Homo sapiens: one gene and its partners. The protein of the gene in region 1 interacts with the protein of each later gene in a pairwise test. Each region holds a gene or a part of one and is shown in the gene's direction. Other genes may lie near its edges. The genes, in order: CAPN3, CASP6, CHAT, ZNF410, GSN, LAMP2 and SH3GLB1.

Region 1 (3,966 bases):
GGAACAAGGCCACAGGAAGGGATGACAAGAGCCGCAGCGAACACTGGATTCTGAGACTGGATAACATTGGATTTCACACATAGAGAAAAGAAAGTAAGCTGGTGCCGGACCTGGTGTTGACACTTGGATCCTCCACTTACCAGCGGGGTGACCTGGACAATTTCTGTAATCCCTCTCACTCAGTTTCCTACTCAGTAAAACGGGGATGATAATGTGCCTTGCAAGGCTTTTGTGAGGCTTCATCAATGAGGTGATGTATGTGAAGTGTCTGGCACAGCATGGGCACTCAAACAGAGGTGCTTTTTCACACTTTACACCTTACAAGGTACTTTTCACATGTGTCATCGCGATACTTGCAAGGTTGCTGAGAGGTAGATGGGGTTATAATCCCTGGTGTTCAAGAAAGGAAGCAGAGGCTCAATGGGGTTGAATGACTTCTCTGAGTTCACAGAGCTCAGTAAGTGGCAGGGTTGGAACTCACATTCAGACTCTCTGACTCCAGACTTAGGTTTTTCCGCACCTCCACGCTGAGGCCAGCCCCAGGCAGTGAGAAGCCCAAAGTCCGAAGCACAGAGTGCTGTGTGTTGGGCTCTGTGTGTTGAGGAGTCTTGTGACTGCCTTGGGGCTTTGGGCTGTAGTCAGCTGACAGTCCTTTGTGCTCTGTGGGGATGACGTAGGCCAATGGGAGGACAAATGCCCCTCTGAACTGTCTTCTGGGCAGTGACAGTCATGGTCATAATCCTGACCCTGAGCCAGTGCCAGGTCTCCAAGTGCCTTCTGAATGACCACAGGCGATTGGTTTTAGTGGTAGGTGTGTGGGGATCTGTTCTGGTCATCTGGATGCTGGTCATCGGTGTGCAGTATTGATCAGGACCTGCAAACCCAAAAGCTTATGGGAGCTGGCACGTCACGTGAGTAGAGCAGGCAGGTGCAGGGGTTTTGATGTCCCTGCACTGACACAGTTGTCTGCAGTTCTCAATTGACATTTCGCTCCAGTGTCGAGGGTCAACAGGAATGTTGGGGCGTGGGGCAATCTGGAAGACACAGGGAGCAGGGCCCTTGGCTCAGCTGATAGTTGCCGCAGGGATTACAGGCCCAGGGCAGCCTGCCACAGCTGGGGCTTTTACCAAAGAAAATCTCCCTATGTTAAATGCTTGCTCAAAAATTTTTAAAAAATATTCTGTAAGTCAAAATCCATTGTTAGGTCAGTTTGAGAGAGCCATGTTTTTGGTGTTTTAGTAACCAATTTCATTTTTTTATTATTTATTTATTTGTTTATTTTTGAGACGGAGTTTCACTCTTGTCACCCAGGCTGGAGTGCAATGGCATGATCTCAGCTCACTGCAACCTCCGCCTCCCGGGTTCAAGCAATTCTCCTGCCTCAGCCTCCTGAGTAGCTGAGATTACAGGTGCCCACCATCACGCCTGGATAATTTTTGTATTTTTTAGTCGAGATGGGGTTTCACCATGTTGGCCAGGATAGTCCTGAACTACTGACCTCAGATAATCCGCCCACCTCAGCCTCCCAAAGTGCTGGGATTACAGGCATGAGCCAGCACGCCCGGCCACCAATTTCATTTTTTAAAAAAGGAAGAAAGAAAACCTTAGCCAGAAGATCTTTTTCCTTGCCATATGCAGTAAGAGTAGATTATAAAAACAAAGTCAGAGCAGTCACTGGTGTCTGGGCATGGAGGAGAAAGAAGAATTCTCTTCTCCCTTCACCCTCCATGCCCCTTTTTGGCTCCATGTGATTCAGATTTCTGGACCCTGGAGCCCCACCCCAAGCTAAAGACCAGGATACAGGGAAGCCAAAAGCCACTGGCGGTTCTGAGAACTTACTTTTCACTTATTCTGCATTTACTGTTTCCTTTTCTTATGCAGAAAAAGAAAAAAACCAAGGTAGGTGTGTGGGTAGAGAGCATGAAGTGTGTGTACTCATGCATATGTATGTGCATGCATGTGAAGTGTGCATGTGTGAGCTCATATGCATCCATGCACCAGACTTGCCTCTTCCTCCCCCTCCTTCCTGAGCTTCTGCTGGGGCCGAGCGTGCAGTAATGACAACTACGATTTGCTGGGGGAAGGCTACGTGCCAAGCACTCTTTTAGGTGCTTTCCATGATTAATTCCTTCCTCACAACAGCCCTATGAGATTAGTACTATAACTATCCCCATTTTCAGAGGGAGAAAAGGTACAGACTTGACTAACTTGCCCAAGGCCACACAGCCAGAGAGGGGCAGAGCCAGTACTTAGAGCCAGGCAGTCTGGGTCCAGAGTCCGTGTCCTGAACCACAAGAGGCCATCATACACCATCAGATTTGGTGCTAGCATTTCTGGTGGTGCCTGGTGGTGATGGATCCATCACAGGGGTCCTCCAGGTACTGGTGCTGGCCCAGACCAGAGCTGACACTCCTCAGGCACTACCACATTCCAGGCACTGTGCTTGGGGTCAGTCCCTCTCTTTTTTTTCCCCCCCAATTATAACAGTATCTACAAAGTAGGTGCTGTTATTTTTCCCCTTTCACAGGTGAGATAGACTCAAAGAAGTGAACTTGCCCAAGGAACAGAACTAATGAGTGGGGAAAATGGAACTGGAAACCATGTCTGTTTACTCCAAAACCTGTGTTTCTTGCCCTCTTTCTCTGATGCCAGCCCCCTACACTTCAAGGCCTGTGTTGTCCAGACCCACACTCGGGCCTGCCAGTGTGTGCCTGGCAGGGATGCTCCATGGCCACACCATATCCATCCTACACATCCCCCCTCAGACTGTGACCTCCATTTGCTCTGGGATCCCCACAAGCTTCAGCTGCTTGAGCAAGACACTGCTTAGAAGGCAGAGCAAGCCAAGGCCTCTGGGGCCTGCTGGGAGCCAAAGCTGGGGAGCCGTTTCCACGGGTCTATCTGCTTGAGCTGTCCTAGATGAGCAGCATGGAAGGGCAGTGGTGCATGAGTCCAGGCGGGCTGCTTTTCTGCTCCGAGAGGCTCTGCCTGCCCAGTTGTTCTCTGCATTGCAGCCTCAATCCCCACAGCCTTGCCTTCCCCCGGCTTTCCCTACAGGTGCACCGCATCCACAGTGTTGGCACCATGCAGCAGCCGCTCTCCGTCCTTTTCATATCCTTGTCACTTGCACGAGCATGTCTTGAAAATATCCCTTGTTTGTGTAGCATCTTAAATGTTTTTGCAGTATGATTTTGCATTCAGTATCTCATTTGATCCCCACAAGAGCCCTATGAGGAGGGAAAGCAGATTTTACCATTAAAGGATGAGTAAACTGAGGCCAGAGAGGATATTTTTGGTTTTTTTTGAGACAGTCTCACTCTGTCACCCAGCCTGGAGTGCAGTGGCTTGATCTTGGCTCACTGCAAGCTCCACCTCCCATGTTCACACCATTTTCCTGCCTCAGCCTCCCAAGTAGCTGGGACTACAGGCACCCACCACCACACCCAGCTAATTTTTTTGTATCTTTAGTAGAGATGGGGTTTCACCCAGTTAGCCAGGATGGTCTTGATCTCCTGACCTTGTGATCTGCCTGCTTCGGCCTCCTAAAGTGCTGGGATTACAGGCGTGAGCCACCGTGCCCGGCCAGAGAGGATATTTCTTATATGAGGGGCAGGGCTGGGATTCCAGCCCAGTGTTCTGATGGCTCACCCACTGACCATGCCACTAATCCGTGTCCTTTTTCAATCTATACTTTGCAGGGTTGTAGAGGTTCCTTTGAGGTGCCTCAGTAGCTGCCATGGTGATGTGGGGTGCTGAGGGCAAAGAGCTCTGTTCTCATTAATCAGAGAAGCTTGTGTTTTTATATACACCATGTTTCTGCAGGAAATTTAATTTGAACAGTGTTTCCATCTGGAAAAAAAAAAGTCTACAAAATACTTGACAATCACTGCACTAGATCATGCTGCTTTTAGCATTCTTAGCATTTCACGTGCTGAGCTCTCAATACTCTACCATGAGGAGGGATGG
Region 2 (3,622 bases), on another chromosome or scaffold:
ATGAGTCTAAATTTAATGTAAATTCTGAGTGAGTCAGAATTAGTGGGTAAAAATTTGAGACCTCACTTTTTAATGGGCACACAAGGAAGATGGTGCATTAGTAGGTATCTCCTCAGGTCAGGCTGGATGTCATTTTAACTCCTAACAATTTATAGCAGCAGCCAGGCAAGCAAAAGTCAATCTGGAAATACACTGCCTGCCTAAACAGAAACACTTAGGTCAATACTATAGCTTTCAAAAGGGAAGGTAACACCGTGTGCCCTGGGTGTGGTTAATCTGTAAGAAATTTTAAAACCACAAGCTTTTTCCTCTACAGTATACCCTTCTACCAACATAATTTGATGTATACTTGGGGATGCCAATTTTTTCTTAAAACATTAACTAAAAGAAAGCCTAAGTAAGGAAACAACTTTGTTGGCTTTTGTGCCCTCCAAACCTGAATGTATTGCTTCTGAACTGCTCAGAATGTGGTTTCTGTTGTAATGAAGGGGTACTGGCTTACACATTCACTGCACACATTAAGCACTGGGAAGGAAACAGTAGGCAAAGAGGTGGGTTTTTCCTCCTTGTCTTGTAGGCATGTCGGGGAAACCAGCACGATGTGCCAGTCATTCCTTTGGATGTAGTAGATAATCAGACAGAGAAGTTGGACACCAACATAACTGAGGTGGATGCAGCCTCCGTTTACACGCTGCCTGCTGGAGCTGACTTCCTCATGTGTTACTCTGTTGCAGAAGGTGTGTGGTGTTTAAAACAAACATATAATTGCCTCTCTTGGCTAAGGTCCTGTAAGTTTCACCTTTGATTGGTTTGGGTCAGATCTTTCGGTTGGGACATGGTGATTCCATCCTGAAGCTCACAGACTTAGAATTTCTTTGACCACATGGCACAGAGTGATAAATGAAAGTGTAAAGTACCTTACAGAAAAATAATTCCTGAGAGTTATGTTGAGTAAAGCAACAGTCTAATTAATTATATTAGTATTAGCAGCCTACCATCAGTTACTGAGGGTGGTAGTGCCATTGTGGTAATTGTCATGGAAAGCTTTAATTTTTTTTTTTTTTGAGACAAGGTCTCAACTCTGTCACTGAGGCTGAAGTGCAATGGCATGATCATGGCTCACTGCAGCCTCAATTTCTCAGGCTCAAGCAATCCTCCCACCTCAGCCCCCCTGTAGCTGGGACTATAGGCATGCACCACCATGCTTGGCTAACTTTTTAATTTTTCGGTAGAGATTGGGTCTTGCTATGTTGCCCAGGCTGGTCTCAAACAATCCTCCAGCCTTGGCCTCCCAAAGTGCTGGGAGTACAGGTATGAGCCATTGCGTGCGTGCGTGCGTTTTTTTTTTTTATAGTCTCACTCTGTTGCCCAGACGTGTGTGTGTGTGTGTATTTTTTTTTTTTTTTAATAGTCTCACTCTGTTGCCCAGGCGGGAGTGCAGTGGTCCAATGTCAGCTCACTGCAACCTCTGCCTCCTGGGTTCAAGTGATTCTCCTACCTCAGCCTCCCGAGTAGCTGGGAATACAGGTGCCTGCCACCACGCCAAGCTAATTTTTGTAGTTTTAGTAGAGATGGGGTTTCACCATGTTGGCCAGGCTGGTCTCGAACTCCTGACCTCAAGTGATCTGCCTGCCTCAGCCTCCCAAAGTGCTGGGATTATAGGCATGAGCCACCATGCCCAACTGAAAAATATTTTGATAATGGTTCTTTGCTTTTGTAGTAAATAATTTTGACTTCTTTTTAGTAATCTCATGTCTCAATCATTGTCTATCTTGGGAATTTTTTAGGAAATGGAAGAAATTATACAGAATTAACCCCGTGTATATAAAACTATATAGAATTAATCTCTTTTCCCATTTGAAAAGAGTCAAAAAAATTTAAAAGCCATTTATATCATGGACACATCTTAAGACTCTTCTAAGGATTTTTAAGAACTTATACTTCTGTAACTAAAAAGAATACACACAGTAATTGAAAGCCAGAAAACTGCAGCAACATTTTCCTTCTCACTTTTTTAGGATATTATTCTCACCGGGAAACTGTGAACGGCTCATGGTACATTCAAGATTTGTGTGAGATGTTGGGAAAATATGGCTCCTCCTTAGAGTTCACAGAACTCCTCACACTGGTGAACAGGAAAGTTTCTCAGCGCCGAGTGGACTTTTGCAAAGACCCAAGTGCAATTGGAAAGAAGCAGGTTCCCTGTTTTGCCTCAATGCTAACTAAAAAGCTGCATTTCTTTCCAAAATCTAATTAATTAATAGAGGCTATCTAATTTTACACTCTGTATTGAAAATGGCTTTCTCAGCCAGGCGTGGTTACTCACACCTGTAATCCCAGCACTTTGGGAGTCCAAGGTGGGCGGATCACCTGAGGTCGGGAGTTCGAGACCAGCCTGACCAACATGGAGAAGCCCCGTCTCTACTAAAAATGCAAAAAAAAATTTAGCTAGGCATGGCGGCGCATGCCTGCAATCCCAGCTACTTGGAAGGCTGAGGCAGGAGAATCACTTGAACCCAGGAGGTGGAGGCTGCGGTGAGCCGAGATTGCGCCATTGCACTCCAGCCTGGGCAACGAGTGAAACTCCGTCTCAAAAAAAAGAAAATGTCTTTCTCTTCCTTTTATATAAATATCGTTAGGGTGAAGCATTATGGTCTAATGATTCAAATGTTTTAAAGTTTAATGCCTAGCAGAGAACTGCCTTAAAAAAAAAAAAAAAAAGTTCATGTTGGCCATGGTGAAAGGGTTTGATATGGAGAAACAAAATCCTCAGGAAATTAGATAAATAAAAATTTATAAGCATTTGTATTATTTTTTAATAAACTGCAGGGTTACACAAAAATCTAGCTGATTTAACTTGTATTTTGTCACTTTTTTATAAAAGTTTATTGTTTGATGTTTTTAAAGGTTTTTGAAATCCAGGAATTAAATCATCCCTTAATAAAATATTCGAAATTCATATTTTATTACATTTTTCTAACTCACATTCTTGTTCATTTGTGTAATTGATAGATGTTTTTTACTCGGTCATTTAAATGTTTAATATTTCATCTACATATGAATTACCACATTTTGTGTATGACTTTAATTCCTACTTTAAAAAAAATCAGCATTCCAGAATTGTTGTATGGCATTCTGAGGATGAAATAGAAAACATAATTCTTAGCCACTATAGGTTGAACACCTGCAAAATCTGATTCTGTCAGCATCTTCCATGTTAAGTTCCTACAAACAGTCCAACAGTCATCAGACCCATTCACACACAATCACATTAATAGAATAACAGATGTTACTTTCAAGGTTCAATTCTTATTAATATGATATAGAATCTGAATAATACTGTTTTGTTAATAATCTGCCAGAGGCTGAAGAAAGTTAACTGTTTTGGCTTCGATACCTGAAACTTGTGATTTGCAGGTTCAAAAGCAATCGTTTATATACACTGTTTCAGTTGAAGTTCAAAAAGTACCAACTATACTTTATGGTTGGTGGAACATTTATGCCTTTTTGATAAATGATAAAAAGATCTTACTCCCAACTACTGCATATTAAAAAAAGAAGTTAATGACAAGACGATTCCGTGGGAGGTTGAGGCAGGAGGGTTGCTTGAGCCCAGGAGTTT
Region 3 (4,463 bases), on another chromosome or scaffold:
TTCACTTTGCAATGTAGTTATGCTGGGAAGAGGAAGAGAAATAAGGCCTCATCCTCCCCTCAAAATGTCCTTAGACTATTGGGCAAGACAGTCACTTAAACAGACACAAAATACAGCTGTGTCCCTTCCCCTGAGTCCCACACTCGCTCATCCAAGCCTCAGCCATCCCCACCGGGGTGTCTCTCAGTCATTACAAATGAGCCAGGAGAGCTTCGCCTCTCCCTCCCCATTCCCCAACTCCTCCCATACCTTGTCGAGCCATGTCCGTAAGTGCACCAGCACATGCCCTGTTGGTGAGTCTGGGAACCTAGAAGTCACCTGTGCTTGTTCTGCTTTCTCCCTTGCACCTTCATGTAACCCATGGTGCTCAGATGTGGTCATTCTCCCTCCCCACTGTGTCCCCAAGCTCCCTCCTCCTTCCCTGCTGCCCTCACAAGACATCACGTTCCTTCTCTGCCACAACCTCCTTCCTTGTTCTTCCTGTGACACCTTTCAGTCCATTCTCCCCATATAAGCAGGGTCAGTAAAACAACAAAATGGAAACCCAGTCATGCCCCTGCGTGCTAAAGCCTCCCAAGGGCTTTCACTGCACCAAGAATAAGGCGATAGCTCCTCTCCACTGCCACTGGAGCCCCACAGGACCTGGCCTGCCCACCTCTCTGGCCCTGTCTTCACTGGGCCTCAGCCCCACTGGCTTCTCTCTGCCTTTGATCAGTGCTTCTCAAGCTGCCTCTGGGGAAGAACCAATATATTTTCTTTCATTTTGTAAAATTTGTGAAAAACAACAAAAAATTGATTACTAGAAAAACGGTATGAAATATGAGACCAAATGTTTTATTACAGGATTCAACAGACATAAAACTCCCATCACATTGCTACAAACATTTCTGGGTTCAGGCATTACACCAAGTCATGGGTCAGTCACAGCAGTTCAGTGCAATACTCATACTTTGAGTTGCAGTGCTTTGGGACACTTCACCCTTAGGGCTCAGCTCAATCAACCTGCCTCAGTGAGACTGCCCCTGGTCACCACCTCCTGTCCCTGCCAACACTCTGTCTCACTACCTGACAGTCTCCTGTTCACTGGTTTGCTGCTTGTGGTCTACTCCCTACCTACACATCCTAGGACTTACACCCCAGTAGAGCAGGAGCTGCATGTCTTATTTGCTGCCATATCCCCACATCCCAGAATGGTGCCTGGCCTATACGGAGGACGTGCTTCACAAATATTTGTTGGCTGAAAGAGTGGAAGGAAGGAAGGATGGATGGACGGATGGATGGATGGATGGATGGATGGAAAGATGGATGGATGGTGGATAGATGGGTGGATGGTGGATGGATGGGTCGATGGAAGGATGGATGGATGCTTGGTGGATGGATGGGTGGATGCAAGGATAGATGGATGGTGGATAGATGTGTGGATGGTGGATAGATGAGTGGGTGGTGGGTGGAAGGAGGGATGGATGTTTCGTGGTAGAAGTATGGTAGATGTATGGATATATGGATGGATGATGGATAGATGGATGGGTGGATGGATGGAAGAAAGGGAGGGAGAAAGGAAGGATAGGCACAAGGCATGCTGAGACCAGAGGGAAAAAGAACTTCCTGCATTGACCTCAGAAGAGGCTTCTAAAAGAGATGATAAAGGAGTAGGCTCTTGAAGGAGGGGAAGGAGTTTTCTGAATAGAACAGTTGAGTTCTGGGGTTGGGGCAAAGGCACGCCGAGAGAAGATCAGCATAAGCAAAGATGCAGAAGGCTAACTGGCAGGCTTTGCACATGCCGTGCATGAGGCAGAGGTTTGAGAAAACTCTGAGGGTCTCCACGTGTTGTGGAAATGGGGCCTCCACTACTTTAAAAAGTGGAGAATTGAGCTCTGCATCTGCCATGATGATGCAGTTCTGGGTTCTGTGCCCCATTTTGCCTGATCAAGTTACAATAAAACCCATTCTCTGTCTCCCCTCACCACCCACCATCCCCTCGTGGCTGCCTCCCTTCCCACTCCTCTCCTTCAGCCACTCCATTCCCACTGACTGTGCCAAAGGCCAGCTGTCAGGGCAGCCCCTTTGCATGAAGCAATACTATGGGCTCTTCTCCTCCTACCGGCTCCCCGGCCATACCCAGGACACGCTGGTGGCTCAGAACAGCAGCATCATGCCGGAGCCTGAGCACGTCATCGTAGCCTGCTGCAATCAGGTAAGCAACCCCTTGTCTTGGTGAGGGAGGGCACAGAGCATACAGTGGCCATGCGTTCACGTCCATTACCTTCTCCGAGGGGGCTCAGCCTCCTTCCCTGAGTCACACAGGGAGCTGGGGCACCATGTCTCCAAAGTGGGGCCCCTACTTCCAGTCAGTCCCATGTCTCTCCACCAGTTGCCTTCTAAGAATGAGAGCCGTCAGTTTGAGAATATCCTCACTGGACTCTCACTTCAGCACTGATGCACTGAGGGTCATGATCGAGACCTCCACCTGTACATCTGTTCTTTTCCATGCAGTCACCCAGGCTCTGGCCTTTCTGGAGACCACACACAGACAGACAGTGTTACAGACTGACAAATAGGACCTTTCATGTGTCAGCCTGTGGGCTCAGCACTTAACATGCATTCATCCCACTTAATCCTCACAGTGACCATGCAGAGGGGGCCTTAGGATCTCTGTGTGACAGTTGAGGACATGAGACTCAGACAAGTTAAGTGGTCTGTCCAAGAGTGGGAAGGAATCCTGGGTCTGGCCAGTGCCCTAAGGTCATGCTCTACCCCCTGCAGCTCAGGTCCTCAGACTGGGTTCCACAGAGCCAACAAGGACCCATGGGTCCTGGGGGACAGGCTGAGCATGAGGGCTCCTGACCTCTTCCCTGTGCCCACTGCACTATATATTCCATATATTGAGCTTCACATAAATATTTCCTCTGACAAACAGTTTTGTTTTTGTTTTTGCTTTGCTAAAACCCAAGTTTGGCAACCATCCCAGGGACTCCCCTGGTACTTGCTCTACAATGTGATCCTGGGCTCTCCTCACATTTTTAGTAAGTTGGGAGCTCTGTGGAGCCCTGACATCTGAGGGCAGCTGTGACCTCTGTTCCTAGATTTGAAGGCCATCTAGGAGCTCTCGCAGCCCACCTGACACCTTGGCCATAGACCAAGGACGTTTCCCCATCTTCATTCAAAAGTCAAGCCAAGTATTTCCCAGCTCCCACAGGCCACCGTATCCACCTCTTCCAGACATGCTCTGGGCCCCTGCACAAGACCAGGCCATACAGACACTGCTAGGGGGTTGGAGGGGAAGGGAAAACAAGGTACTCATGTCAATCAGCTGAAAAGTGTATCTTGACCTGGGTCTAGGAATAGACCCTTCACAAAGCCCAAGGCTCTAGCCTTCAAAGCTACAAAATGACAAAACCACAGGGCTGACATACAAAGCACATGTAGGTATACATGTGAAGGTGCACACACATGCACACATGTGTAGGTGCACATGCACGCATGGTGTGTGTTGGTTTTCCATTTTAATCTTCCTCTGCATATGATTGCTGGCTTGCTTTTTTTCCTCCACTCACCAGTGTGTTTAAGGCCCATCACTGTGGCTCTATCTGTTGCTAATTCACTCTTTTCAATGGCTGGGTAGACATGCCCTAGACATATACACCACATTTCACTTAGCCATTCCCCTTCTGGAGAACAGTGAGGCTCTTGCTACCATTTTGCTGTTGCAAACAAGGCCGAGAGGCACATTCCTCGTGTCTTCCGGTACACACGGGTACGTTTCTCTAAGCCTCAGGCTAAAATATGCATTTATAAGTGCAATTGCTTAGTCATAGGTATGCACATTTTTAGTTTTGATAGACACTGCCCTCCAACAGTAGCTGTGCCAATTTATATTCCATTCCCCACAAACATAATGGATTCCGTGAACCATGAAACACATTTTCTTTTGGCTAAGTTTAATGTTGCCTTCTTTGATTGGGGGCAGCGTGGAATCCAGCACAGTCAACAGCCTTGGCTTGGTCCCTAAACTGAGACTAGAACCACCAAACACCTTGGGAACCTTGGGCCTGAGCATCCCTGCCCCAAGCTTACCTGTGAAGGCTGAGTGAAGGCCTGGTGCCACGGGCCACCCAACAAGTGACATGTTTGACCTGTTTACCCCACAGTTCTTTGTCTTGGATGTTGTCATTAATTTCCGCCGTCTCAGTGAGGGGGATCTGTTCACTCAGTTGAGAAAGATAGTCAAAATGGCTTCCAACGAGGACGAGCGTTTGCCTCCAATTGGCCTGCTGACGTCTGACGGGAGGAGCGAGTGGGCCGAGGCCAGGACGGTCCTCGTGAAAGGTCAGCCGCAGTGCCCAGCACATCTCCATGCCCATCTCATGCTCGTGCCCATTGGCTTTCCCTCCTCTAGGGTTGGGCCAGGGCCTCATCCCCATCAGCCATAGTGTGGGAGCTCAGGGCCCACAGCATGCCCTGCG
Region 4 (4,463 bases), on another chromosome or scaffold:
TTCTCTGGGTTTCTCCATCTAGGTCTTGAGTTCATTCTCTTCCTGTCCTTTTGGCTTCCTTGTTTAACCTGGTCCCTGTTTCAGGAGAGAAGCCTCATCAGTGCCAAGTCTGTGGGAAGACCTTCTCTCAGAGTGGAAGCAGGAATGTGCATATGAGAAAGCATCACCTGCAGCTGGGAGCAGCTGGGAGTCAAGAGCAGGAGCAAACTGGTGAGGAGGGTGGGCATAGTGGAACGCTGTACTACTTCTAGGGTTCCAAGAGCCAAATCACTGTCCTGCCTGCTTATCTGGAAATTTTCTGATTCTGTTTTGGGTAGATAGACCTGGTCTCATTTGATGGGCTGATGGTTTCCAAACATAGCTATACAGTAGAATCATCTGCAACCTTTTAAAATTTATATACTTTTTGTTGCTTGTCCGCCCACCAATAAAACAAAGCAATCTGATAAATGAGATAATTTGCAAGATCCTAGAATCTGTAGTTTTAAAAGTTTCCCTAGTGAGTTTGATGGTAACTAGTGCTGATCCATGAACAAGCATTTGAGTAACACAGTGATAAAAGATTTCCACATGGGAAGAGTTTAAGCTTTTTAATTTTTTTAGATGGAGTCTTGCTTTGTCACCCAGGCTGGAGTGCAGTGGCGCCATCTCGACTCACTGCAACCTCTGCCTCCTGGGTTCAAGCAGTTTTCCTGCCTCAGCCTCTTGAGTAGCTGGGATTATAGGCAGGTGCCACCACACCTGGCTGATTTTTATATTTTTGTAGAGACGGGGTTTCACCATGTTGGCCAGGCTGGAAGCATATTTTATTTACCAGTCATGACTACCTTTTTGCCCTGCCTGAAATTTGATAACTCTTTTTAATTCTTATTCCTTCGCCATATCTTTCCTTAATTATTCCAAATATTCCTTTCTAAAGATCCACCTATCCTGTTTCATATGCTAATTCTTCAGACGCTGAACACAAGCAAGGATCATTATCTTCTAAGGCTTACTCTTTCCCTTCTAGGTTTATTCTTGTTTCTCGAAAGTAGGTGAAATAGGGGGTGGCATCCCATCTATAGGTTAACTTCTAGTAATGAAAGAGAAGGCCAGCTTCTGTTGAAAGAAAATGAGGACCAGGCACAGCCTTGATTGCTGTATGTCTCTCACAACCTATTCTCTGTGCAGCTGAGCCACTAATGGGCAGTAGTTTGCTTGAAGAGGCTTCAGTACCCAGTAAAAACCTGGTGTCTATGAATTCCCAGCCCAGCCTTGGTGGAGAGTCCTTGAACCTACCAAATACCAATTCTATCCTGGGAGTTGATGATGGTAAGACTTCCAACTCTCCTTTATTTGGGAAAAATGGGCTGCAACTAGGGGCTAAGGAATGGGGTGTCTCCACAATGTATGTTTAAATCTCATTTCTTATGAGTAGCTGTGGTATGAGTAGCATTTGTGTTCTTATTCTCTGGGGTGGATTAGTCAATCTGTTTAAAAAAAAATTTTTTTTCATTGAAGATAATATAATAAAAGAATAAAAAGAAAAAATTCTTAAGAAAAAATTATTCCTAATCCTAGCATCCTAGCCCAACTATTTCTATCTTTCCTATTGCAGTTATGGAAGAACTTAACTTTTAGAACATTTAAACAGAACATAACCAGGTTTTACAGAGGAGATATAAAGCAATTTCTCCATACCTTCAAAAGCCATATCTTCTGGAGAAAAGAAAGGGCTCTCTAGGAAACACTTGCTCCTCTCTGGTATAGAAATTTCACCCAAGTTACACAGGCCAGGCCCTCTTCTCTGAAAAACTTAACAGGTGAGGTCAGCATGCATTTATTCAGTGCCTACTGTGTGCCTGGCACCATGGGAAAGACAAAAGTAGAAGATAGGGACCTTAAAATCCAGTTGAGAAGTGAAAGCTTACATATATATGGGAAAGAACATTGAGTACATAAAAGATAGTATATAAGCCAACATTAAATTATATGGTACAGCATAAAATAGTTGTATAATCTAGAAAACCCCTAGAAGAAACTTCTAGTTTTTTGAGGGCTAAGTGGTATATCCATAAACTATTTCCAGAAGATTTTCATGGTGATCCCACTGATGAACATTTAGTAACTGTGAGACCCTATGTTTTTGTTACTCATATCATATTCAGTTAGTAAGTGCTATTAGTATCATTGGCGACTGCTTTTAAGGGTGGCTTTGGTTCCCTTACCTGCTTGCCTAAGACTTTTGCCTGTTTCATACATAGTTTTAATTCAGTTAAAAGTGCTAACACCATATTATTCTAAATCCTGTATTAAGATTTCTTGCCTTTCTATTCTCTTTTTATATTACTTTCCAAATTCACTGATAATGCTTATCAGACAGGATTAACTTGGAAGAAATAGAGGAATGTGGGAAATAGAGGAATAGAGTTTTAGAGTTGTTAATGAGAGGCTTAATGATCCAGATAGGTGTATCTCTGGATTCACTTTTCATTGAAACATTTTTCTGTTGCTTCACAGAGGTGCTTGCTGAAGGATCCCCACGTTCCCTGTCTTCAGTGCCTGATGTGACACATCACCTGGTGACCATGCAGTCAGGGAGGCAATCATATGAAGTTTCTGTCTTAACTGCAGTAAATCCACAAGAGGTAAAGTGGTCTCTTGCCCTTTGTTTCTGTGACAATTCATGTGGGGAATGATTGAGAATTTAGAGGACCTGAAAAAGTCTCCAGTTTCCATTTCCTGGAAACTTTGGCACGAATATTTTCCTTTAAATTAAGCATGAGTTCAGCTTGAAAGGAGCCTGAGGGTTAGGGTCTTAATGAATTGGAGATTGGTCTGTCACAGCTGGGACTCCCGGCTTTAAAGTTCTTTTATATACATTCCTTGTTGATGTCTGTTCCCACTATTCTCTGCCACACTATAACATGATACAGCTTTTATTTTATAAAAGCACACAGCAGGCACTGAATAAATGCATGTTGACCTCACCTGTTAAGTTATTCAGAGAAGAGGGCCTGGCCTGTGTAAATTGGGTGAAATTTCTGTACCAGACAGGAGCAAGTATTTCCTAGAGATCCCTTTCTTTTCTCCAGAAATAACATCCTGGAAAAAGTCCCTCAGCAAAAAAGGTAGTAACAAAATCATTAAACATAATTATTGTTCATTCTGCTATGGTCATATGTCTGGGAGATACCAGGCTTAACCAAATGGGCATATACAGATTTGTTCACTTGCTTGCTAAGTGAGAACCATTACCTAAATCAATGGTCTCCAGCCTTTTTGGCACCAGGGACCGGTTTCGTTTCACCTCAGGTCATCAGGCATTAGATTCTGATAAGGAGTGCGCAACCTAGATCCCTCAAATACACAGTTCACAATAGGGTTTGCGCTCCTATGAGAATCTGTTGCTGCTGCTGATCTGACAGGAGAGGTGGAGCTCAGGTGGTAATGCTTGCTCACCTGCTGCTCACCTCCTGCTGTGTGGCCTGGTTCCTAACAGGGCACGGACCAGTGCTGGTCCATGGCCTGGGGGTTGGTGACTTCTGATCTAAACAAAAAGGGTTTGAGGTTGAGCTAAAGCACTTTCAACTCTGTAGTTTGGCTTTGACTCAGGAAACAGAATGCAAAGTGGTCAGTGTTTTAAAATCTTGGGATATTTCACTGGTCTTGTGTCATGGGAGTGGATGACTTCATCACGAGCACATTTCATATGCATAAACTTTTGTCAAAACCTCTGTAGCTTGGATCCTTTCAGTATTACATTAGTTTTTATGGTGCTCTTCCGTCTTTTCTCCTCTTTTCTTTTCTTTTTTTTTTTGAGACAGAGTCTCGCTCCGTTGCCCAGGCTGGAGTGCAGTGGTGCGTTCTCGGCTCACTGCAACCTCTGCCTCCCAGGTTCAAGCGATTCTCCTGCCTCAGCCTCCTGAGTAGCTGCTACTACAGGTGCGTGCCACCACGCCCAGCTAATTTTTTTGTATTTTTAGTAGAGACAGGGTTTCACCATGTTGGCCAGGATGGTCTCGATCTCTTGACCTCGTGATCTGCCCACCTCAGCCTCCCAAAGTGCTGGAATTACAGGCGTGAGCCACTGCACCCAGCCTTCTTCTTTTCATTATAACCTTTATACCACAGTAAGCTGTTGCATCATTCAAATGACTCTGCATCCTATATTGAATATTCTCCATTATTCTCTAATATCTTTGGGGGTACCCAGGATTACAGGGTTCTGGGCATACATGTTAATGCTTTTGCCAGGACTTTTCTTTTTATTGTTGTGACCCATTGTCTTTGCTTATATTTAAAGTTTTTGATCTTGATATCATTGGTTCTTTCCTAAGTCACTTTTTCTGGTAACTGCTTTGGAATGAATCATACATATCTCACTTACGGAGCCTTCCTCTTTCTCCTCCATTTTTCTTGTCTTCATTTTTCTATTTTAAAGCTTTTATTATGGAAATTTTCAGAGTACAGTGAGAGAGAGA
Region 5 (4,463 bases), on another chromosome or scaffold:
TGTGAATAGTTTGGGTCATTTGTGATGTGGGTCATAGAGATGATTTCTGCTTGGTCTATGGTACGTTGCTGAGACACTGAGCTCTGGTTTTCTTTAAGAAAACTTTTACATCCTGTGTCTGCGGCCTCTGGGTGTGTATATTTGCTTATCAGAGACCACAGGTGTGAGAGAAGTTAGAAGCACTGACTTGGAAATGGACCCCCAGTCTTGGTTCTTTGGGTGACCTTGGGCAAATCCTATCTCTCTGAGCCTCTGGTTCCTCATGTGTAAAATGGAGAGATGTTGGTTTGCATGATAATAATAAAAAGCTATCTTTTAACTGGGCATGGTGGCTCACACCTGCAGTTCCAGCATTTTGGGAGGCCGAGTTGGGTTGATGGCTTAAGCCAGGAGTTTGAGACCAGCCTGGTCAACATGGTGAAACCCTGTCTCTACTGAAAATACGTGCTGGGATGCTCCTGTAATCCTAGCTACTTGGGAGGCTGAGGTATGAGAATTGCTTAAACCCTGGAGACGGAGGTTACAGTAAGCTGAAATCACGCCACTGCACTCCAGCCTGGATGACAGAACAATACTGTCTCAAAACAAAAAAAGAAAAGACAAAAAAAGCTATCTTTTAATATACCAAGCACTGGAACATTAATTACTTTATTGATTCCTTGCAACCATTCCTCTGAGGTAGATACTAGTATCTTCTTTTACAGATGAGGAAACTGAGTCCGAGGCTGAATAACATGCCCCGGGTTGTGTGGCTATTGGGTGATGGTGCAAGGATTCCAGAGGTCTGACGACAGAGCCATAGCTATTAATGACAGCACTAAACATTCTCTTGAAAATTCTTTCTAGTCCTGGTATTAGGAGAACTGGTAAGGGAGTTTGTTATGCTTTTATGAGGGGTGGGTGTCGGTGTGCAGAGCTTGGAGAGCTCAGCCCTGCAGCAGAGAGGCCTGGAGGGGCCTCCCGGGGCTGTTTGTAAACTCATGCTTTCCTGTGCCATCCGCAGGACCCTCAGTGCAGGTCAATCTCCCCTCCATTTCAGGGAATCCAGGCTCCAAAAGGACACAGGACTTGCCCAGCAAGGTCATGTGGTGAGGTGAGAGCCCAGCCAGGACTGGTCCCCCCTTTTCATCAATCAAGCTTATGCTCTGGAAATCTATCTGGCGAAGCCAGGAAAACTGGACACTCTCCTGCTCCTTGGTTATTCCCTGAGAAAATGCCAGCAGAAGCAGAGAAAAGCACGTCCCAGGGGTTATGCATTTTGGGGAGGAAGGGAAAAAAAGAGACCAGTGTTTAGGCAGCCGGGGGATGTTAAGTAAAAATATCTCCTCGCTTTCAACGGAGTGAGCGTGTGTCATATTTCAGCCTGATGTGGTTTGTGAAGTTGGAGACCACAGGCAGGCTCAGTTCCTGCTGCTGGCCAGCTTCCCCTTCCCTCTGTCCCTCCCCTGCCATATGCCTGCTCTCGTCTGCCCTGCCTGGGACCACATCAGCAATTTAAGAATAGGGCAGAGAAAAGCAGTGGGTGTTGTGGGCAAGGGTAGGCAGCTGAAGGCCTGGGCTTGGGTCCTGGCTTTGCCAGTGACAAAGTACTGGGTGACTTGGGCTAATGCATGCCTTTCTCTGGGCCCCAGTGTCCATTCTGCACTGTAGGGTGGACAGCATAATGTCAGCCTTCCCAGCTCTGATGGCCTCTGAGTTGGAGGGCTTTGTGCTCCCCACATGTACTTGGGTCCGGCATGTCTGAGACACAAAGTGAGCCCGCAGTGGTGCAACTGGTGATTCAGCTACTGTTCTTGAATTTAATCTTTTCGGACTGAATTGATTGCCCCATTTTGCAGATAAGGGAGTTGAGGCCTAGGATTTGTTGATGTATCCCATTCCCTGCTCTACAAGCAACAATAATAAGGGCCACCATATGTAACACACTTACTATGTATGTTCACCTTTTGCTTTCACTATCTGCTTTAATCTTTTAACAGATCTACGAGGGGAGAGATAGTGACTCCATTTTACAGATGAGGAAACTGAGGCTCAGTTTAGAAAAATGAAAGGACTTACGTTCTCTTCTTTGAGTCTCACAATAGTCCTGGGGTTGTCATTATGTGACCCATTTTACCAGTGAGGAAACTCAGGCCTGGAGACGTGAGCTCCTTTGCCCAGGGGTCCCCAGGGCCCACACACAGCCTGTCAGGTTCCTTCCCAGGCCCTCCTGCTCCTCCCTCCTCCCTTGCTTGCTCTGCCTCATGGGGAGCCTCTTCACCTCTTGCATTCAGTGCCTGGGTTAAGGGATGAGAACAGTTTTCTTCCTGGGCTATAAAGTATCCCTGAAATTGACTCTTCCCAAGAGTGATCCAGAAAGGCTTTAAGCCATGGAGCCTCGCAGGGAACTCCAGTGAAGGGGTCGCACCAGTGGGAGTGGATTCGTTTATTCTGCTGAGCTGGCTAAGCAAACAGTCCTGTTATTTTCCAACCTCAATAAGAATATCATCAGAGCCAAGCTTATTTGCCAAGCAAAGTATATATATTCTACATATGTGAGCCTTCAGGGTGGGGCTTGGCCCTTAATTTCCCTGCTACAGAGACTGTGGCTGAGCTGGGTTTTGGTGGGTACTAAGTAAATACTAGTTAACTTGTTGGGTGTGTGTTGATGATGTGGGTGGCATATGTACTTTTTTCTCCCCACCTCCAAGGACCTTTTCCCCCCACCCTTATTATTTCTATTACACTTGTGATAGAAAATTTAGGAAATAAAAAAGTATATATATAAAAAAGAAGTGTTCATAACTAACCAGAGAAAATCACTGCCAACACCTGGGTGCCCTTCCTTCCTGATATTTTCAGTGCATTTTTTTTTACCCCCACACAATTATCCTATATTTATAATTGTCTGTTCTGACTTTCTGTTTTTTCTCAACATTATATCGTAAGTATTTTTCTCATGTTATTAAGGATTCTTTTTAAATTTAATTTTTAAAAGTTTTAAAAGCATACTATACCTAAGTAGATAAATGTTTATTCTAATTTAAATCTTTTATTCCAATAGTCCTAGGGATTAAAAAATGAAATAATGCTTTTTATTTATTAACAAAAAGGCTGAGAGAAACAGGATTTGCCCAAGATCACCCCCAAAGAACCAAGACTGGGGCTCCCCAGGGCTGTAGTTTGCATCCATAAATACAGAGAGAATAATGTTTATAATCTTGGGTATAAAAACTTCTGGTGAAAAGGTTGATCAAATGCTAGCTGTATTTCTCCCCCTTCCATGGCTTTCTACTGAGTCTCTCTCTCCTACAGGACCCTACTTTGCTCCATAATTAAGCAGCAAAGTATTTCAAGAGCTGTTCAGATTCTAGAAACTCATAGCAGATGAAATCGACAGATAAGTCAGATATCGAATATAGACATTAAAAGATCTGGGCACTAGGCTGTACCCTGTTATTGTCAGTGGCTCTTTAGTCCTTAAACAAGGGTCTTGCCTCCTACTTTTTTTTTGTTATGGTAGAAATAAATGCCCACCCGAGTTTTCATCACTCACTATTATTCTATCTTTGGTGTGCCTGTACCATGTTCCCTTAACAATCCTCAATTATGAAACATTTAGGCAGTTTATAAACAATACTGCAATGAACAACCTAGTGCATACTTTTTTTGTGTGTTCTTCTTTTATTATTTCCTAGAAGTGAGCCCTAGAAATGGAGTTCCTGAGTCAAAATGACACATTTTATAGCTTTTTCTTGTTAAAAAAAAAATTCAGTGACACTTGTGAAAACACGGTAAGGAAGTCTTTATTCAGGAACATTGCCTTGGGCATAGGGACCACTGCAACAGGGTCCTACAGTGAGGGAGAGAGTTTGGGCTCAACTCCTAATACAGCATGGGCGAGTGGGAATTGATAGCTGCAGAGCAGGGTAGGGGTCAGCGGATGGAAAATTACTAAGAGGAAGCTCAGGAATAAGGGATATTCTTGCTAAACCGACCTAACAAAATTATTGATGAAGACAAACCAGGGTGATTCAAACATCAGTGGGGGCATGGTGGAGGATGAGGAGCCTGATCAGATATCAAGGATGAGGGGTTCTGGCTAAACAGACTTAGCAGGATTCTTTTGCTAAAACTGGATTTTACAAGGAAGTGCACAGGTAGGCCTAGGAGAAGGTTCAGAAGCCTGGCTAAAGTTTGGCCAAGCAAATAATCTGTGTCATGCTAAATTTTGCCAAATTTCTGCTCATAAAGGTTACAGTAGTCCTTATTCCTACCAGCCATCCGTGAGAATGGCAGCATTCTTCAGGAGCATCTGAAGCTGGTTATAAAAAGCTCAGCTGTCCTTTTATAGAATAGAGTACAGCGACCATTTTCCTGAAACGTTACATTTCATTCATTCATTTGGCAAATACACTTGCACAATTCAGCAGCAATAAAGCATAACAAGTTAAGATCCCAGGCCGAAGAAGTGGAGAGAACTT
Region 6 (3,787 bases), on another chromosome or scaffold:
AAATACATGCAAATAACAAGATTTTCTTACCTCTCAGTTGTTGAAACACTTTGCTTCTTAAAATTGATATGTTGAAACTTTAATTCTTTTATCAATCCCAGCATTTTGAGATCAGTCTTTATTAATAAAACCTGTTCTCTTTAATCAGCTTAAAATCCAAAGTGTCATATTTACTGGTCCTGGAGACAAACTTGTTCAAAAGAACATCAACGTGCAATGTTTTAAGGTCTATCTTAAGAAGCCCTGGCCAAATTTTGATCCTAACCTTGAAGTATGCCTTGAACTTATTAACATGGCCATTATAAGAATAAAATATGTAGTTGTGTCTTAATGGAATTAATAAATGTCATTTCACTACTGGTGTTCTGTTTCAATGTATAAGGACTATAGTGATTTAAACTCATCAATGTGCCTTTGCATAAAGTTCATTAAATAAATATTGATGTGGTATAAATGCCCATCAGATATGCTTAAACTTGGTTTTCAGTTGAATGAAGTAGAGAATGTCCTCAGGACCATCAGCATTTTAAAGGTTATGTGACTTTTGCTGATTTCTCTGAGTTCAAGTTAAGCATGAAGTTAGTACCTCAAGCCTGTGATTTTTCCCTAGGGATGATACAGACCCAAGAGGCTACAACAGAACTTAAACTGGCTTCGTAATTAGAGTTTTTAAGATAATTGTTTGTTTTTCAGCAATATAGACTGAAAAGATCCAAGCATATTTAGCCACTTGCTTTTTTGTTTCTTGTTTTGTTCTTCTTTGGATGCCTGATTAGTATTGAAAGATAGAAATATTCTATGAACTAATTAGGACAGATTGTGTTGTGTTTCTCTACCTCATCTTGTTGATCTCTGGAGCATTAAAATCTATTTAGTGTTGTCATCAGTGTGGTACTTATGAAATGTAAGCTAACAGCAATCTCAGAAGGGAGGCAGTGAAGCATAGCAACTAGGCTCTTGTTTCTTCAAGATGGCCCCTGTGGGGCAGTGCATAGATGGGGGTGTAAAGAGAAGCTGTTGGCATTAAAATGAGCTAGATAATCAGCCCTTGTTGAAGCATATTCCATGGTATAAGAGTAGCACAGACATGAAACATAGATAAAGAAGGAAGGCTTAATAGACTAGAAGACTTCCACATTGAAGTATTATTAACCCATTGTATGTATATAGGGGCATGATCAGAGTCTCTATAACTTCCTGATTAACAATACAGTGTATCTTGTTACCCAGCTGTCAGTCTTTGAGAGCTTTCAGTAAAATATAGTAAATTCTTTCAGCATAGGCTAATGTGTGGTTACTGAGATGAGTGTTGTGTACTCAGAACCGTAGCAACATTTTTATGAATGGTAAAAGTACAAGAGGAGGAAAAGTTAAAATTAGAAGAAAAGTACAAGTTATTGCTTAATCATAAATCACACCAGATAACACATTTTGTTAATTTCATTAGCTATTACTGGAAAGGACCTTAACGATTATTTACAGAAAGGGGAGTGAAATTCATTGAGGTTCCATATCAAGTGGGCAACAAAACTATTACTAGCATTTTGATAAAAATTGCCCCTAATGAAATCTAGTCACTCAACAGTAAAACAACAGCTGGTTTACACTTGAAATTATGAGATCAGAATTGGGCACTTTGGGCTTCCGTACTATGTTTTGCTTAAGTTTTTTTTTTAATACTAATATGGGCTTTTTCAGTAGTAATATACCAAAACACTTCTATTTTAATCTCTGTTTGCTACTTCAAAACCTAATCCTCCTCAGATGGGATCATGAGCATAAGAGGAAAAGAGAAGAGAATGAATACTTGTTGACCTCTTGATGTGTATCAGATGCTTTAGAAATGTAATTGTATTTAATCCTCAAATACCTTATAGGTATTATTATCCCCTTCTTACAGATGAGGAAAGTGAGGCCCAGTTTAAATAACTTGCCCAAGGTCCTTTGGCTAGTACTGGAAGGAGTCAAGATTTAAACACAGTTCTGTCTGAATCCAGAACTCAAAATCTACATTGCACATGTTGCTTTCCTGGTGGTTCGGTGGAATGGACTGCAACGCATTAGATACTGCTGTTATTCTTCCAGGCCACCGCTCAGCTAAAAATAATTGTGTGTGTGTGTATATATATATATATGTACACACACACACATATATATACACACACACATATATATACACATATACATATATATACACATATATATACACACACATATATATGTATATATATACTACATTCTTGATCCTAAGTCTTTTTTAACTTAAATTTTATTACTTATACAGAATTCTTATTTATACTTTAATTATAGGTGTGACGAAGAGAAAGAGAGTAGGGAAATACACAGGCAGTGGTTTTAAGTGTAGATGATGGCTCCTTAACCCAGTGTCATTAGATAATCAAACCTAAAGTCTTCCCATATTAGGCAAGCGCAATTCTCTATTTTGGACCCTTCCCATTCTTCCCTTACCTTCTGCTTTTCGTACTGAGGAATTTCGTGTGATTTTAGATAAAGTGATAATGAGATATTGAGCAAATAAGAAAATAGAGGTAATGCTATAAAAAACTAAGCTATGTACACTTTCAAAATGCATGTTTCTTGCATGCTTTTTACTACTTAATTGCATTCTTTGCTAATTTCCTTTCCTTGCTGTCTGTTCTTTTCTAACAGCTGAAGAATGTTCTGCTGACTCTGACCTCAACTTTCTTATTCCTGTTGCAGTGGGTGTGGCCTTGGGCTTCCTTATAATTGTTGTCTTTATCTCTTATATGATTGGAAGAAGGAAAAGTCGTACTGGTTATCAGTCTGTGTAATCAGTTAAATCTAGTGTTTGTTTGTTTTTTTCAATTAGAAGTTACGTTTCCATTGGCTAAAAGCCAGGACATGCTGTGCAATAGATTGTTTAAGATATGCAGACTAACTTCAGTGAGTTCCTAGCTAACTTGGGCATGAGTACACTTATTTAAGACAAAATATATTAGGACCAATTTTTTTCTGTTTTTTTTCTTCCTTTGTTAAAGTATAATTAAAAGAAAAATTGTGGCTTAGAATTTTTTAAGTAAATAATGATTTTAAGCCCCTGGATCCAATTATGAAAGCATTTTTGCTGATGTGTAATTTTATATGTTACAGTTACTTATATTTTACTACTTTGATGTTATTTGCAAAATCAAAGGTGTTAAAGAATTTAACTTGCTTCAGGAAATAAATTCAAGAACATAGTGGATTCATTTTCATTGGTGGCAGACACGAAATTTGGTTCATGATAAGACTTCCTTTCCCCACCTCCTGATCAGCATTATTTAAATCTGTATTTTTCTGTTAGTTAAGAAAGAAATGGCTTCATGATATTGTATTTAATAGCAAAAGTTTGGCTGTCTTCTTCATTACTGTTAATAGCTACTATATTTTAACAAGGAGATTTCTTTTTTTGTTGTTGTTGTTCTAGAGTTTGGAATATACTGATTATCTCAGACTTGACATTTATACTGAAGGATGAAGTAAGACCTCCAGCTTTTTTTAAAAAAGGTGTTGATTTGGAACACCTGTATGGGTTATGGTTTATTAAGGTTATGGTTTAGAAAGTTTTTTTCCCTCAGAGCCTTAACTTGTTAAGAAGGTTCATTTATCCTGCACTGAAAACAAAAACTCTATATACTTTGTTTGTGTGCCTCCTGCACTCTCCCATTCCCTATGTGAATATGCTCTAGTTGATATTTTTAATATATTGATTTCTTTTTTCTCACAGCAACAAGTGCTTACTCTAGAGGTTAGTGGGCCCTGATAT
Region 7 (4,018 bases), on another chromosome or scaffold:
CAACTATGAATTAGGTTTATGGGAAATGTAGTAATACAGGGGAAAGAATATCGGTAATGGAGTGAAATGGTCCTGGGTTCAAATCCAGTCTTCCTCACATATTGTGCTCTTTAAGCTTCAAATGAGATGTATAACTGCCTTTTCCTTACCAGTAAAATGAGGACAATAATTATGACACCATAGGGTGGTTGTGAGGATTAGCAAATGTTATCTTGTATTTCAGGTGCCTTTCAGGGAAAGGCTTGGCACATAGTAAACACATCCTGTAAATATCAGTTTCCCCTTGTTAGCCCCTGTAGCATCCTGACCTACCAAGTCTATAGGCCTTGCATATCACTGTGCACCAGAGATACCTCTTTTACATCTGGGCTCTGTTTTCTCTCTATCAATCCTATCCTCCACCCTCTTTAAATCAGACCCCAGGTTTAACCTTCCCACAGTCAGTATAAATCATTTTTCAGAACTTTCAGCTTTCCATCAAGTGAAAGTTGATTTTAGTTACCCAGTAATGTACAGAAACCTTCAATAATGTTAAGCTTCAAAGGCTTCTGGTACGTTTGTCTACCACAGAACCACCACAATATATATGCTTGTTCTTAGGTTTATTGCTTTTTATTTTAATGGGGTTTGGTTGTTTGGGTTTTATTTTGGTTTTGGCTTATTTTAAAGTCAAGTTTAGTTTTTACTCAGGTAAAGGCCTGAAGTTTCTTGGGCGTGGAAGAAAAAGCTTGGGAAGCCTATTAATTCATGGTGCAGTTCAGAATTGTTTAAATAAGCTCTGTGCCACTGAGCTTAATCTGAAAGTATAGTGACATGTGAAGGATGCACATATGAATGAAAAACTAAAATAATTGTAGGCTCTTCTATAAATGAAAAAAAAAGTGATTGGATTGTGTCTACCTTTTTCCTCAAAGTAATCTAACCTAAACGGTCATGGTGTTAAAACTTTTTATGGTGCTAATCAGAAAAATTGATGTTGCAAGAAATGAGGTCTCAAAAATGGGAATGTGCCTCCTCACTCTGCGTCACATGGGAAATAAATCCTGAGGCCAGGATCACCAGTGGGGTAGAGTCATCTTCATAGTCTCCTGTTATCCTCCCCCTGAACAAAGAACAAAGTGAGACTGGGAAGCTAGTGTTGGGGAAACATTTCTGGGATAAACTGTGGAGTGGAGAAGACAATGGAGGGCAAGGCAAAAACCCACAGACTTGTTTACCCATAGAGGCCCCACTCACCTCCATGCTGACAGAATTCCAGAAAAATTCCTTCCCTATCTCCCAAACACCTGAAATTCTGAAATATTGCCCTACTATTTAGCACTTTAAGCTTCAGTGAGGTGCTGTAATGGAGAGATAGCTTCATAGTTTAGCCTATAGCCAACTTTGCCTCAAGACCTCCAGATAAGATGAAGTGGCTTTTACCTCATGTGAGTCTCAAACGCTGGAGAGAGAGTTCCACAACCACCCCTGCCCTTTCTCCCATATTACGCTCATTAGAAAGTCTACTCAGGGCTGGGTGCCGTGGCTCATGCCTGTAATCCCAGCACTTTGGAGGCTGAGGCGGGTGGATCATCTGAGGTCAGGAGTTCGAGACCAGCCTGGCCAACATGGGGAAACCCTGTCTCTACTGAAAATATAAAAATTAGCCGGGCATGGTGGCGTGCACCTGTAATTCCAGCTACTCGGGAGGCTGAGGCAGGAGAATCACTTGAACCCCAGAGGCAGAGGCTACAGTGAGCCAAGATTGCACCACTGCACTCCAACCTGGGTGATAGAATAAGACTCTTGTCTCAAGGAAAGAAAAAATGTCTACTCAGTAGAGCAGTGATTGGCAAAGTGTGAGACCCCAGACCGGCAATATTGGCATCTCCTGGAGACTTGTTTAAAATGCTGATTACTATTTTCAAGAACTTTCTACCTTCATTTTTACTTATTTTTTGTTTTCAAGGGCTCATGGAATCAGTCTTCCATGTGACAGCTTTTTAAATATTTTAAGACAAAAACTGAGTCTTCTAATCTTAATTGTGTTCTAGCAGTAGTCATTGTAATTATAGTTATTTTTATAATTTATTTGTTTAGTGTATATCTGTCACTCTAGAATGTAGGCTCCCTGAGATAAAAACTATAATTCTTTTGATGGCAGTTACATTCCCAACTCTTAGCACAAGATCTAGGACATAGTATGAACTCAATAAATTTTTGTTGAATGAAAGAAAAATGCAAATTTATAAGCCTTTTCAGAGACCTACTGAATCAAACTCTGAGAGTGGAGCCCAGCAATCTGTTGTAAAAGCTGTTTGAGTAATACTGTTGCACTCTAAGCTTGAGAACCACTGCAATAGAACTAAGAGAACATTCATTTCACCTTCAGGCCTATTCTCTGACATCACTTGAAAAATCCTCTCTGCCTTCTGTAACCCTTAACCAACAACAGTGCCCTGTCCATGTAGGGGAAACTTCTGGGCTGTATTACAAGTGGGTAGGAAGGTATAAGGATATCATAGTGGGAAGTATTGCTTAGAATGCCAGTACTTGTTTGCTGTGGAAGGTTTCTAGGAATGGATTGCTTAGTCTAAAGTAAGCACTACCACCATCCACGTTTTCACTCAACACAGTGCCTTTTAATTGGTGACTAACATCAAAACACCTTGACAAACCGTTAAAACAGTATCAGAAACCATGTGTACATCCCTGTGCCTCTTAGATTGCTAAGTTCTGCTCTCATTCTTACTTCAAAGGACACTTTTTAAAGAATTGTTAATGCTTTTTTATAATACAAGTCATAGCCCTGTTGGCAAAAAGAAAAAAGATTCAGTGAGAAAGAAAAATCACTGATAATTCCATCATCCAGGGAGAACCACTGTTATTTAAGTATATGGCCTTCCAGACTTTTCTGTGCATTTATAGATATTTTTAATGGGATCAAAGTGTACATACTGTTTTGTAACTTTTTTTCACTCAACAATACCATGACTGTCTTGCTGTGTCAAGTATATTTCTACATCTCTTAATGGCTGCATGATATTCCATCATATGTGCCACATTTTATTAAACTACTGTTCAATTTTTAGGTTTCCAACTTTCATTAATAAAGTGCTTTAAAGAACATTGTGTTGCTAAATCTCGTATGTGTTCATATTTTCTCACGATAAATGCTTTGAAGTGGAATTGCTAGTGAAGAGGGTATGCCAGTTTTTAAAAGCTTTTGTTACTGCCATGTTGCCCCCTAGAAAACTCTAAGCAATTTATACTTTTATCAGCAGTATATGAGAGAATACTGTTTCTTTTGGAGGGCTTCCAACTAGAATGTTCTTGGAGTCTTTGGTTTAAAAATAAAGGGTAAGAGGGAGATAAAAAGATCCTGCAAAATTAAAGTCCAGTCTTAAATGTTTCTTAAATTATGACATTCATTTACTGTTCTTCCCTCTTTATCATATATTTTGTATTACTTTGGAAATGTTTGTAGTACTAGTTGCCTCTTGCTTTTATTCAGTCTCCTGGAAGCATTATTACCTTTCTGACATTTGCAAAGACAGTAGAAGAACAATCTTAAGTAGACTTGAATCTTGAGGTATCTTTGATGCAGGTGTACTGTTGATGGATTTAGGGAATGTAGCCGTAGTGGGGAAAGTAGGATTTTGGAAGGTAGGCAGAACAGTGGCTCTCCCACTTGTTTTCCTGGCCTTTTGTCAGTCATTAAACCTCTCCCACTTTGAGCCTGCTTACTCATCTCTAGAATTAGAATACTATAAACCTACCTTGTAGCATTGAAAGGATTAACCATATTATGAAGAGTGGCTGGCACCTAGTGGATAATATTATGGCTTACTAGGATTTATAGATGAGCATGTTAGAGCATTTGCTATTGTCAACCTCTGGAGTAAATATCACTGCCATTGCCAAAGAAAATCTTCCTTGAAAGCTGTCACAGTGAATGAGCATTGTCTTGTATATCCTTATACCTACGCAATCCTCATTCTTATGGAATCTGGCTCATTTTTTCCAGTCAGGTATTCAA

Evidence for each region.
Region 2: the proteins of CAPN3 (region 1) and CASP6 interact in binary tests that used the Homo sapiens proteins (3 or more experiments, as listed by UniProt).
Region 3: the proteins of CAPN3 (region 1) and CHAT interact in binary tests that used the Homo sapiens proteins (3 or more experiments, as listed by UniProt).
Region 4: the proteins of CAPN3 (region 1) and ZNF410 interact in binary tests that used the Homo sapiens proteins (3 or more experiments, as listed by UniProt).
Region 5: the proteins of CAPN3 (region 1) and GSN interact in binary tests that used the Homo sapiens proteins (3 or more experiments, as listed by UniProt).
Region 6: the proteins of CAPN3 (region 1) and LAMP2 interact in binary tests that used the Homo sapiens proteins (3 or more experiments, as listed by UniProt).
Region 7: the proteins of CAPN3 (region 1) and SH3GLB1 interact in binary tests that used the Homo sapiens proteins (3 or more experiments, as listed by UniProt).

Annotation. Positions count from the first base shown.
Region 1 is NC_000015.10:42,404,045-42,408,010, forward strand, and holds part of CAPN3 (calpain-3), read left to right. Parts: intron 1-719; exon of another isoform or gene 720-911; intron 912-1,881; coding exon 1,882-1,899; intron 1,900-3,966. UniProt on the Homo sapiens protein: Calcium-regulated non-lysosomal thiol-protease. Proteolytically cleaves CTBP1 at 'His-409'. Mediates, with UTP25, the proteasome-independent degradation of p53/TP53.
Region 2 is NC_000004.12:109,687,965-109,691,586, reverse strand, and holds the end of CASP6 (caspase-6 isoform alpha precursor), read left to right. Parts: intron 1-577; coding exon 578-737; intron 738-2,018; coding exon 2,019-2,257; 3' UTR 2,258-2,959; downstream 2,960-3,622.
Region 3 is NC_000010.11:49,623,460-49,627,922, forward strand, and holds part of CHAT (choline O-acetyltransferase), read left to right. Parts: intron 1-2,013; coding exon 2,014-2,194; intron 2,195-4,148; coding exon 4,149-4,326; intron 4,327-4,463. UniProt on the Homo sapiens protein: Catalyzes the reversible synthesis of acetylcholine (ACh) from acetyl CoA and choline at cholinergic synapses.
Region 4 is NC_000014.9:73,920,896-73,925,358, forward strand, and holds part of ZNF410 (zinc finger protein 410), read left to right. Parts: intron 1-84; coding exon 85-210; intron 211-1,170; coding exon 1,171-1,311; intron 1,312-1,803; exon of another isoform or gene 1,804-1,841; intron 1,842-2,499; coding exon 2,500-2,627; intron 2,628-3,806; coding exon of another isoform or gene 3,807-3,908; exon of another isoform or gene 3,909-3,924; intron 3,925-4,463. UniProt on the Homo sapiens protein: Transcription factor that binds to the sequence motif 5'-CATCCCATAATA-3', and is specifically required to silence expression of fetal hemoglobin in adult erythroid cells.
Region 5 is NC_000009.12:121,270,771-121,275,233, forward strand, and holds part of GSN (gelsolin), read left to right. Parts: intron 1-1,039; exon of another isoform or gene 1,040-1,093; intron 1,094-4,463. UniProt on the Homo sapiens protein: Calcium-regulated, actin-modulating protein that binds to the plus (or barbed) ends of actin monomers or filaments, preventing monomer exchange (end-blocking or capping).
Region 6 is NC_000023.11:120,427,510-120,431,296, reverse strand, and holds part of LAMP2 (lysosome-associated membrane glycoprotein 2 isoform A precursor), read left to right. Parts: 3' UTR 1-2,670; coding exon of another isoform or gene 2,671-2,813; 3' UTR 2,814-3,787. UniProt on the Homo sapiens protein: Lysosomal membrane glycoprotein which plays an important role in lysosome biogenesis, lysosomal pH regulation and autophagy.
Region 7 is NC_000001.11:86,745,077-86,749,094, forward strand, and holds the end of SH3GLB1 (endophilin-B1), read left to right. Parts: 3' UTR 1-3,108; downstream 3,109-4,018. UniProt on the Homo sapiens protein: May be required for normal outer mitochondrial membrane dynamics. Required for coatomer-mediated retrograde transport in certain cells. May recruit other proteins to membranes with high curvature. May promote membrane fusion.